2 linked regions of the Homo sapiens genome follow. Changing the gene in region 1 together with any one later gene gives a genetic interaction. Each region holds a gene or a part of one and is shown on either strand. Other genes may lie near its edges.

Region 1 (7,768 bases):
AGTTCCCTCCCTGCCCTCCCCACTCCCTCTCTCCCCCTCTTCACTGTGCTCCAGCCACACGGGCCTCTTCGCTCTTCCTCCAACATGCCAGGAACATACGGCCCTGCCCCAGGGCCTTTGCACGGGCTGTGTCCTCCACCTTAAGCAACTTCATGGCTAGCTCCCTCACCCCTACATGTCTTTGCTCAAATGCTACCTTCTCATGAGGTCTTCCTAAATCCCCTCATTTCAAATCACAGCCTTTTCCGCATTCCATTAGCTCTACCCACCTCCCTAGGTTAAGCCCTGATCTTTGTCCAACAAATCTGATTTTTTAAGTTATTTTTTTCCTTCCTTCCTTTCTCTCCCTCTTTCCCTCCCTTCCTTTCTTCCTTCCTTCCTTCCTTCCTTCCTTCCTTCCTTTCTTTCTTTCCTTTCTTTCTCTCTTTGTTTCTTTCTTCTTTTTTTTTTTTTGAGACGGAGTCTCACTCTGTCACCCAGGCTGGAGTGCGGTGGCGCAATCTCAGTTCACTGCAAGCTCCGCTTCCCGGGTTCACGCCATTCTCCTGCCTCAGCCTCCTGAGTAGCTGGGACTACAGGCGTCCGCCACCGCGTCTGGCTAATTTTTTGTATTTTTAGTAGAGACAGGGTTTCATCGTGGTCTCGATCTCCCGATCTCATGATCCGCCCGCCTCAGCCTCCCAAAGTGCTGGGATTACAGGCGTGAGCCACCGCGCCAGGCTTCTTTCTTCTTTTTTTTTCTTTTGAGACGGAGTTTCACTCTCGTTGCCCAGGCTAGAGTGCAGTGGTGTGATCAGCTCACCACAACCTCTGCCTCCTGGGTTCAAGCGATTCTCCTGTCTCAGCTTCCCAAGTAGCTGAGATTACGGGCATGCATCACCACGCCCAGCTAATTTTGTATTTTTAGTAGAGACAGGGTTTCTCCATGTTGGTCAGGCTGGTCTCGAACTCCTGACCTCAGGTGATCCACCTGCCTCAGCCTCCCAAAGTGCTGGGATTACAGGCGTGAGCCACCGCGCCCGGCTTTTTTTTTTTTTTTTTTTTTTTTTTTTTGACAGGGTCTCATTCTGTCACCCAGGCTGGAGTGCAGTGGCATGATCTCAGCTCACTGCAAGCTCTGCCTCCCAGGTTTTCCCTGACCTCAGCCTCCCAGGCAGCTGGGATTACTGGCACCTGCCACCATGCCCAGGTAATTTTTGTATTTTCACAGAGACAGGGTTTCAGCATGTTGGCCAGGCTGGTCTCAAACTCCTGACCTCAAGTGATCTGCCCGCCTTGGTCTTCCAAAGTGCTGGGATTACAGGCTTGAGTCACTGTGCCCAGGCTCTTTCTTCTGTCATCCAGGCTGGAGTTCAGTGGCATGATCATAGCTCACTGCAGCCTCAAACTCCTGGGCTCAAGTGATCCTCCCGCCTCAGCCTCCCAAGTAGCTGGAACTACAGGCTTGTGCCACTGTGCCTGGCTAATTTTAAATTTTTTTGCAGAGAGGGGCTTTTACTATGTTGCCCAGGCTGGTCTTGAACTCCTGGCCTCAAGCAATCCTCCCACCTCGGCTTCCCAAAGTACTGGGATTACAGACGTGGGCCATGGCACCCGCTCATCATTGTTTCTTTATTGTCTGTTCAAGAATTTATGTTTCTTTGGTTCACTACTGACCCCTCTCTTATGCAGCACCTGACACATAGGCATGCCCCTTAAATACCTGTTGAATGAATAAATAATTGAAAGCTCTATTGACTGCACCTGACATTTATCCCAAATCCATCCCTTTATCACCATGTCCATGGTCACCACCCAAATCCAAGCCACCATCATCCCTCTCCTTATAGACTACAATAGTGTCTTTTTTTTTTTTTTTTTTTGTCTTGCTCTATGGACCAGGCTGGAGTGTAGTGGCGCAATCTCGGCTCATTGCAACCTCTGCCTCCCAGATTCAAGTGATTCTCCTGCCTCAGCCTCCCGAGTAGCTGGGATTATAGGTGTCACCATGCGTGGCTAAATTTTTGTATTTTCAGTAGAGACAGGGTTTCGCCATGTGGCCCAGGCTGGTCTCAAACTCCTGGCCTCAAGTGATCCACCTGCCTCAGCCTCCCAAAGTGCTGGGATTACAGGCACGAGCCACTGTGCCAGGCCCAATAGTGTCTTTCATTAACTCATTCAACAAACATTTACTGGCTTCCCGGCCATTACCTTATCATTAGCTGAAATCATCTTCATGAGATTAGGTCTCTCTGCCCCCATCCCTAGCTTCCACCCCAGTAGAGTGTAAGCAGGCCCTCCCCCGTCCACCTAATACGTGGCCCTCATCATGGAGTTTCTTTTTAAATTATCGTTATTATTATTCTTAGGAGAAAGTTTCACTCTGGTTGCCCAGGCTAGAGTGCAATGGTGCAATCTCTGCCCACAGCAACCTCTGCCTCCCAGGTTCAAGTGATTCTCCTTCCTCAGCCTCCCTAGTAGCCGGGATTACAGGTGCATGCCACCACACACAGCTAATCTGCTCACAGCAACCTCCGCCTCCCAGGTTCAAGTGATTCTCCTTCCTCAGCCTCCCCAGTAGCTGGGATTACAGGTGCATTCCACCACACCCAGCTAATTTTGTATTTAGTGGAGACAGGGTTTCACCATGTTGGTCAGGCTGGTCTGGAACTCCTGACCTCAGGTGATCTGCCCACCTCGGCCTCCCAAAGTGCTGGGCCCTCTTTTTAAATTATTATAACCACGAGGAGGCGCTAGACCCCTTCCCTGAACATGCCCCTACCCTCTGACTGTACCAATACCAGACCGGTGAGGGATAAGGAAGAAACTTTCTTCCCCTCTTGAGCCTGGAGTCTCTTCCATATTTGCCAGGGCCAGTCGGGGGAGCCCAGTCTGGAAATTCCCTGCTTTGCAACCTACAGGCATCAAAACTTTTCATCCCCAAGCATCGTTGGCCCTCTAGGCCTCAATTTCCTCATCTGTAAAATGGTGGGTGAGTAACTTTCACCGCAAAGCAGCATCGTGGAGAAAGTGGGCATGCGAAGATTGAAAAGGAGGCAGACAGGATAAAGCTCCAGAGCTCCGGGTTTGAATTTCGCCTCTACCACTTACAAGCCAGGTTAACTTGGGCAAATGGTTTAGTTGCCCTGTGCCTCAGTTTCTCCATCTGGAAAATGGAAGTGATGAAAATACTACCTACCACCCTTACAGGGTGGTCTGTTTGAAAATTAAAATAGAGGCCTCATGCCTGTAACCCCAGCACTTTGGGAGGCCGAGGCAGGTGGATCACATGAGGTCAGGAGTTTGAGACCAGTCTGGCCGAGACCCCATCTCTACTAAAAATACAAAAATTAGCCTGTAATCCCAGCTACTCGGGAGTCTACAGCCGGAGAATCGCTTGAACCGGGGAGGTGGAGGTTGCAGTGAGCTGAGACTGCTGCCACTGCACTCCAGTCTGGGCAACGAGAGTGAAACTCCATCTCAAAAAATAAAATAAAATAAAATAAAGGCAAGTTGACAGAACAGCCCTTGTGTACAGTAAGTGCTCAATAAATGTTAGCTGCTGCTACTGCTTTTAAGACTGTGGTTACTGGGGCCAAGCACAGTGGTTCATGCTTGCTTGTAATCTCAGCGCTCTGGGAGGCCAAGGCAGGAAGTTCGCATGAGCCCAGGAGTTCCAGAGCCTGGGCAGCATAGTAAGACGCCACATCTACAAAAAATAAAATAAAATCAGCTGGGTGTGGTGGTGTGCACCTTTAGTCTCAGCTGCTTGGAAGGCTGAAGCGGGAGGATAGCTTAAGCCCAGGAGGTTGAGGCTACAGTGAGCTATGATCACCACTGCACTCCGGCCTGGGCAATATAGCAAGACCCTGTCTCTACAAGACAAGACTGATGTTAATATGAGGAACTCATCAATAAACGTGGCCAAAGAGTCCTCTCTCTTGCACTAGGTCCCTGTCACCTTTTCTCTTGTTCGTCTCCAGGCATCACGATGGAAGTCCCCCCCACCCTTCTTCCCACCTGGGAAACCACCTGAATGATTTGCCTTCCACCTCCACCAAAGTCCCGCCCCGCTCCAGCGTGCTGTCACTGAAGGAAGCTGTCGCGTTTTCCCGGACGTCTCTCCACAAAACCCGCCACCTAAATGGGGCTTCTTTCCGGAAAATCCGGGAGGGCGGTCTGGAGGAAGCGTACCCCTCCTTACGTCACAGCTGCCGCAGCTACCCCAGCCTGGCGTAAGAGCCCGAGGGAGTTGCCCTGCCCTGACCCGGAGCCTTGGCGGGGAGGGGAGAGAGGCACCCCACTCCACCCCGCCCTGGTCCCAAAGGGCCATGGGTGCTTGGGGCCGCCTGGGTGGAAGGGAGGGGCAGGGTTCTAAGGGGCGGGAACGTTGGGATGAAATTTCTTCTATTGCCCTAAGGGGCGGGGCTGAGAAGGAGGTGGCTGCGGGTGGGCGTAGTCATTCGGCGGTGGTCGTGGCTATATACAAGGGGAGGGGCCACTGGCAGGAAAGGATGCGTGGTGCTCCCCTAGTGGGCGGGGTCTATGGAGAAAGCGGTGCGATGCAGAAGGAGGCGTGGCTAGTAGCAAAAAAAATGGTTTTAAGGGGGCGGAGCAAGGGCCTGGGAAGTTAGTTTGAGGCGGGGCCCGCAGGGGGCGGGGTCTGCAGGAGGTGTGGTCAGGTAACTGGGCTGAGTTCCCACTAGGTGTGGTCTGGGAAGGCTGGGGCGGTGGCAAGGTGGAGGGCGGGGGTGACAGCAGCCCGGAGCCGCGGAGCCTCAGCTTCCGCCTGGACCCAGCCTCGTGGGAGCCCCGCGGGTCCTGCCCAGGTGAGTGGAGCCCCAGGGCAGATCCAGAACCAGGATTATTGGGATGGGGAGTCCTCTCTTTCCAGGTGGGGTCACCGGCTCGCAGGGAGGATCTGGGGTAGAAGAGGTCGCCTCGCGAATGAGAGGGTCGCTGTGCGTTACGCGTGTCGGTGTGCTCGGGCTCACCTGGGCGTGCCTCTCTAAGTGTATTTCCTGTGCAGCACAGAAAGCCATTGTTTCCATTTTTGCCTGAGTGATCCTCTTAAACGGCGAATCAGATCGGGCCCCTCCTTCACTTAAAACCCTTGGGTCATAGAGATTAAAATTCAAAGTCCACTAGTTTTTGCCTAGTCTCTCCTCCTGATCTCTCCAACCTCATTGCCCTCCTATCTACTCCTTCCTCATCGTATTCCGGCTACACCAGCCGCCTTGATGATGTAAAATGTAAAAAGCAAGTCCATCTCAGCTCCAGGCCTTTACCCTTACTGTACCCCTCACCCAGGCGACTCCTCCAAATCTTTGCCTAACTGCCTCCTTCTGTACTGAGGTCTCAGTTCCAATGTCACTTTATAGGAGAGGCTGTCCTGTCCAGCCTCCTCTATCACATCTCCCTGGCTTATCACTTTCATTGATAACTCTTAGAAATGGTCTGTCTTCTCCATTCATCTTGTGCTCGTTTGCAGTCTGTCTTGCGCAGCCGACTGCAAGCTCTGGAGGGCAGGGTGGTGCCGAGCTTTAATCTCCTTAGTCACTGTATCTCTAGGTCCTAGAACAGAGCCTGGTGCACAGCAAGTGCTCCAGCAATGGTCGTCCAACGTCAAAAGCGAGTCCTGCCTACATCTGTGTTTGTGTTGCCTGTGCTGGTGGTTCCCACCCTCCACGTCCTCCCCACACGTGGACACATGTTTATGATCCAACTGGAACATGAATAATCCCCTCTCTCCTCTCTCTATGCTTGGTCTGATTCCTGATTCTGCCCGTTTCTTCTCTTCCGTGCCCGAATAAATGATCCCAAAGGACTCAGAGGCAGGAGATGGCTTAGTTGGCCTTTGGCTGACCTATGGCCACCCTGTGTCCTCAAACTAACCAGAACCTTGCCATTGACTCAACTTCACTCTCACTAAGGGAGACACAAGACAGGAACTTGGGGTTGGGAAACTCTGCGACCGAGGCTAGCCCTGGTCCAGGTGACAAACAGGAAGTGCGCAGGCATTGCAAAGACACACCTGGCTTCAGGTATGCGGCACTGGCAGCTGGCTCCCTGCCCAGCGCTCCTCCCCTAAAGCCACCTAGGGCTGGTCTGGGAACTTCCTGCTGACTCAGGAGGCAGGAATTTCTCTGCAGACCCCACCAGAAGACTTTGCAGGGCTGCAGGGAGAGCTTGCAGGAGAGTAAGAAGCAGATTATCTTCTTCTGGACCATCCAGAGAAATCTCCCCCACCAGACACCTGAGACACACTGGCCCTGAGGCCTGTGAGATTATCGGGAAACTACCAAAATGTCTGAGATCCAAATTCAATCATCATGATAACCACATGTATGGGCTCCGAAATAGAAGGATCTGCAAAGGCAACATTGCTGTTTGCTGACATTGCTACAAAATGTGACCTTTTAAAAATCTTAACCCTGGGGTTACATTCTTTTTTTTTTTTTTTTTTTTGAGACGGAGTCTTGCTCTGTCACCCAGGCTGGAGTGCAGTGGTGTGATCTCGGTTCACTGCAGGGTCTGCCTCCTGGATTCAAGCGATTCTCTCTCCTCAGCCTCCTGAGTAGCTGGGACTACAGGCACACGCCACCATGCCTGGCTAATTTTTGTATTTTTAGTAGAGACGGGGTTTCACTGTGTTGACCAGGCTGGTCTCAAACTCCTGACCTCAGATGATCCACCCACCTCTGCCTCCCAAAGTGCTAGGATTACAAGAGTGAGCCACCGCGCCTGGCCCCCAGCGTTGCATTCTAAAGCAAAGAATAGGGGTTAGATCTGCACCTATCCTGAGAACCTCTGAGTGTGCGCATAGGTTGCCGAGAAGCCATGGATGTTTGTAAGTTAAATTCCCCCTGACTGGGATGTTTTTTCACCCAGAGTCACCTGGCACACTCCCCAGAATTCCTTCCAGACTTTACTCAATGAGACCTTTCCTGGTCACATGATCAAAAATGTTCACCCAGCCTGGGCAACGTGGCAAGACCCAATCTCTACATATATATTTAAAAATTAGCCAGGCACAGCCAGACGCAGTGGCTCATGCTGGTAATCCCAGTGCTTTGGGAGGCTGAGGAGGGTGGATCACCTGAGGTCAGGAGTTCGAGACCAGCCTGGCCAACATGGAGAAACCCCATCTCTATTAAAAATATTTTAAAAATTAGCCAGGCATGGTGGCACACACCTGTAGTCCCAGCTACTGAGGAGGCCGATGCACGAGAATTGCTTGAAACCAGCAGGCGGAAGTTGCAATGAACTGAGATCATGCCACTGCACTCCAGCCTGGGCAACAGAGTGAGACTTGATCTCAAAAAAAAAAAAAAAAAAAAAAATTAGCCAGGTACAGTGGCCCACGCTCATAGTCCCAGCTACTCAGAAGGATGAGGTGGGAGAATCACTTGAGCCCAGGAGGTCAAGGCCGCAATGAGCTGTGATTGCACCACTGCAGTCCAGCCTGGGCAATAAAGCAAGACTCTGTCTCAAAAAAAAAAGAGTGTTCACCCTAGCACCTGTACTTTCATTATATCCCATCCATGGTTTAGTTTTTTTGTCTAGCACTCACTCATGTATGCCATCATCTAGTTCTTTTCTGAGGTGCTGCTCCCCAGTAGAATGTCAGCTCCCAAGGACAGAGATTTCCATCTGTTTTGTTCAATGCTATGTCTCTAGGGCCTAGAACAGAGCCTGGGACCCCATAAGGTGCTGAATAAATAGGGGTTCAGTGAATTCATTAATTACATTTCTGCAAGATGGGGTGGCATGTTGTCATCTTCAGCCA
Region 2 (4,216 bases), on another chromosome or scaffold:
AATTTTGGCAAAAGCCCCGTCATCTAAATGGCAGAATAACTCAGAGCATGTCTTTGAAGATGCTGGGCGTCTACCACCACCTTATGTCCCCACCCTACCCAACAAAAATAAGTAAAAAGAATATGGTGTATTCTACAAATTTGTGGCATGCTCAAAGTTTATGATCACATAAAGGCAAGAGGATACTTCATGAATAATACATTTCAATGCAAATAAACAGATGGTTCACTTCTACTAGCTATGAGCCTGTTTTTGTATACACTGAGTTAATCTACTCAGGCTGTAGGTCCCAGCAATGTTCTAGAGTCTGGTCTTTCCCTTTCCTGCAGCTTCGGGTCCTTGGACCTTTCCTGTTTCCTATTACTTGGAGTGTCTGTCAGTTGAGCACCAGTTGTTCTGGTGTTTCATTTGATTCTACTTGTAGCATAATCATTTATACGAGCTATTGGGAGGTTCCAAACCCTACCTAGATTTGTGTAGGTGATGTATCAAATGAGCAATATACCGTTCATCTGAAAATAGTAGCACACAGCCATATATAGGATATCATTTTCTAAGGACTGTTTCTTCACATTGAGCAGAGCAGGCATAAATGGTGGTTATTTAGTCTAAGTCTTTTATTTTTTTATACCTGATTTTCAACATAACACGCAATGTGGATGTCGAGTAGTGTTAAGAATGGTGCTGCTCCTGACAAGTGTATGTTAACTGTTTACATTTTCTATCTGTAGAATTATTTCTCTATTACTGAACTTTTCCTAAGTAAAATGTCTTTGAAGTCTCGTTATTTCTGAAATACGTTGTCTGTAATAGACCCAGGCACCTTTTAAATTATCTCTGGAACAAGAGGGATTTCATGTAATGAACTAGGAAATGCATACTCACATAAGCAACAAGGTTCTAGGCAGAAAGCCCCTTGGAATTTGTGACCAACAGGAGCAAGAACAGGTGCGGCTCAACATGCAATGTCTGAAAATTTGCTTGGCATTTTATTCATATATTTAGTGCAAAATTATTTTTGAGTGAGATATTTTACATCACTGTTAATGTGCAATATTTAAGATTAAAATACATTAGCTTTTTTATATACTTTGAAGTAGCAAGTTTGTTTTCGATGGCTTAGAGTCATGATTTCCAGCTTCCCAGCCTTTTTATCAGTCCCTTTTCTAATACAACAAGGTGCATTAATTTGATTAGGCAAATTAGAGTTCTAAGACACTTCTTGAATTGTAGACAGAAAATATTGGATTCACAATTTCAGCAGAAATTTGAGAATGAGTGTGTTTATATTAATTTCACAATTAGCTGTATTTTCTGTAGCATAGATTATGTCACTGTTGCACTTTCACAGCAGACATGCTTTCAGAAGGTTCTCATATTTTATGTTTGATTGCTGATAAGCCATCTCTATTGATACAGATTTTGGTTAAGTAAGGAAAACCAGGTGTGTGTCTGTATCATTTATTGTAAATGCCAGCTGCCACTTGCCAACCATCATGTTCAGTTCAATTCAAAGAAAACAAACTCTCATTACTTAGTGTAAACTAAAATACTTAACAAATTATATCCTAAAAACAAGGTCTCTTTGTTAAATGTTGCATGCCCTAGGTTTTAAATTACTACATCCAAATACAGTTTTCGTCTTAAATTTGTTAAGCTAAATATATGTTGGTTCTTTTTATTTTGGAATCCTTTAAGCATCTTAAACATTTTTTTTTTGAAGAGAAGTTACAAATAACATTTCTATCAGGTAGTACTTGTATGAAACCACCTTTCTTATTCTATAATTTTGATTTTTCAATTTTATATACTTAATATACTCACTGTCTTACTATCAGAAAGTTATTTTGACCAAGATTTTTATTATCTTCATAGATTCAGAAAGAGATGCTAATTCTGTACCAATGTCTTCCTGGTTACTATTCTCTTCCCTCTAATATATACTGGCCATTTGTAAAACCATTGTGTTGTTGGGATCACTTAGTTATACTATACGCAGATAGAGCATCTCAACTCTGTCATAGTGTTTGCTGAACAGTTTTCAGTGTCATGCACCTTTGGCTGCTAATTGTTCCTGACGTGCACTCTTCCGAGTTGGTAAAGGCACAGTGTGTTCATGCCAGACTTCTAAGAGAAACACCAGCCTCTTAAATCAGAAGCCTACACACAACCCCCTTAACAATCCAAAGAAGCTTGATGGTGTGCAAAGAAGCATCCTGCCAGCCTTGTCATTGTTCTGTTCTATGCTAATCCTGCTGTGTTGTCTAAAAGATGGAGGGAAGAGGACATCAGTGTCTGATAGTGAAATCATCAGCAGGAAAGTGAAGCTCTTTCCTTGGTTACAGATAAGACTTGGTTTACACTATTGGCCAGTATCTGCTAAACATATGAAGACTTAACTATTCAGTGTTGCCTAGGCATTCGCCTGCACAACATTTTGAGGTTAGAACATAGAATATTTTCAGAAATACTGTTGTAGTTTGTGAGTGTTGTTCATTAGTTACACATTAGCTATAGAGTGGATGCATGAAGCCCCATGACACCAGTAAACTTCTCTTACCAGTAGGTAAACCAAACACCATTCTGTCATTAGCAGCCCTCTTAAATGTTGCCTCTCCGTATCCTGTTGCATTTTTGTGTGCATTGTGTTTCTACTGATCTCTCTTAGGTTTTTACGGAATCAAAGGAAACTAATTTTTCCTTAATAGCAAGAAAGATGAAGAGGTAAAGGGCATTGAAGCAGAAATGTATAGTTTGGGGTACGATTAGAAAACTCGTAAGGAAAACAGAAGTCCTAATTTCAAACTGACTGCTCTTCGTTAAGTGCTCTTAAGGAGAGTCTAGTAACAGTAACACTTTCTGGCCATTTCTAGTTTAGATTCTCTTCGTTACTGAAACTTTTGAGAAATATTACCTGTGGATTAATTTTGCACAATGTTCTATTCTCATAATGACTTACAAATTAAACTAGGTTTTTATTGAACTACCTCACACTAATTTTCTATGCTTTCCCAAGTAAGCTGTTGCCCTGTTAGATCTTTACTGAGTGAATTATAAATGTGTGTTAAATACTTTCTAGCCAATGTTGACACAATACCAGTAAGTATGTAAAGTATATACCTTACATCAGTAAGAGACACGTGTAAAATCTTTGACTGTATGTCTTGCAAAATTGTGCTCGTTGACATTATTACTGTTTTTGTAAGTAGAAACCTGCTCGTGATATCGGTCCATTTACATTTTACAAAAGGAGTAAATCTTAGTAAAAATTTTACGAAGAAATAAATTACTTTTGTAGGCCCAATATTTGGTATATTTTTGAGAAGCTGTTAATCTTTTAGCTGAATAATGAAGTTAGACTGAATTACGTGTCTCCCTGGACTGTGACATCTATTTTCTCATTACAGTTTATCCTGGTCAGCAGGGTGTCACACCTGGAAACCTGAGTATGATAGCTGACATTTGCTTTTCTCCCTCTGCGATGTCATTCCTCCTCCATTCCTCTCCTTCCCTGTGTTCCGTTCCCTCTCCTTTCCTCTAGACAAAACAAAATGGGGCACTTTTTAGGGAATGCTGAGATCATTATTGTGGTTTTTCATCATTCATGCCCTAGTCATTAAACATGCACCACTGGAATGTAAACAATGTTATCTAGTATGTCAATTGGTTATAATATTTTAAATAAAAAAGAAAAAAGTGGTATGAAAATTATGAAATTAAGAGTTTTTTCATTGAAAACAAAATCTGTTTGTGGTAAAGTTTTTCTTGGCAATTTTAGGATTGTCCGTGGATTGGGATAAAAGGGGTCTTGCTAGGGCCGGTTTCTTAGATTTGGATTTTGTACAGATTGTAAAGAGCCTAAATGATCACGCTGATTATCTGGTTGATCTGGTCTTGGATTTCTGGTGTTTGAAATTGCTGGATAAACTTTATCTAAAAAAGGAACTTTGCTTCAATGCCCTTAACCTAGTTCTTGGTAGACATATGAGAGAACAGCCATCGTGACCACTTGGCAAAAATAAGTACTTAAAATTGGGGTCTGTTTCAAAACAAGCAAGAGGTTTTAGCTTTGACTGTTTCCAACTTTTGCCATGCTTATTTCCTCTTTGCCTACGTTGGGTCTGCTGCTGTGTGGGAATACAGGGTCCCTGCAGTACCTTCCCAGCCACTGTAATGACGCCACTCCGTCTTGCACAGTTCCTGCTCCAAATGACCT

What was found. Genes that interact genetically often act in the same process or in processes that back each other up.
Region 2: of SH2D3A (region 1) and MAPK8, changing one enhances a phenotype caused by changing the other (phenotypic enhancement), as found in Homo sapiens cells (one study listed by BioGRID).

Annotation. Positions count from the first base shown.
Region 1 is NC_000019.10:6,764,427-6,772,194, reverse strand, and holds the start of SH2D3A (SH2 domain-containing protein 3A), read left to right. Parts: upstream 1-4,759; 5' UTR 4,760-4,808; intron 4,809-7,768.
Region 2 is NC_000010.11:48,435,645-48,439,860, forward strand, and holds the end of MAPK8 (mitogen-activated protein kinase 8), read left to right. Parts: 3' UTR 1-3,716; downstream 3,717-4,216. UniProt on the Homo sapiens protein: Serine/threonine-protein kinase involved in various processes such as cell proliferation, differentiation, migration, transformation and programmed cell death.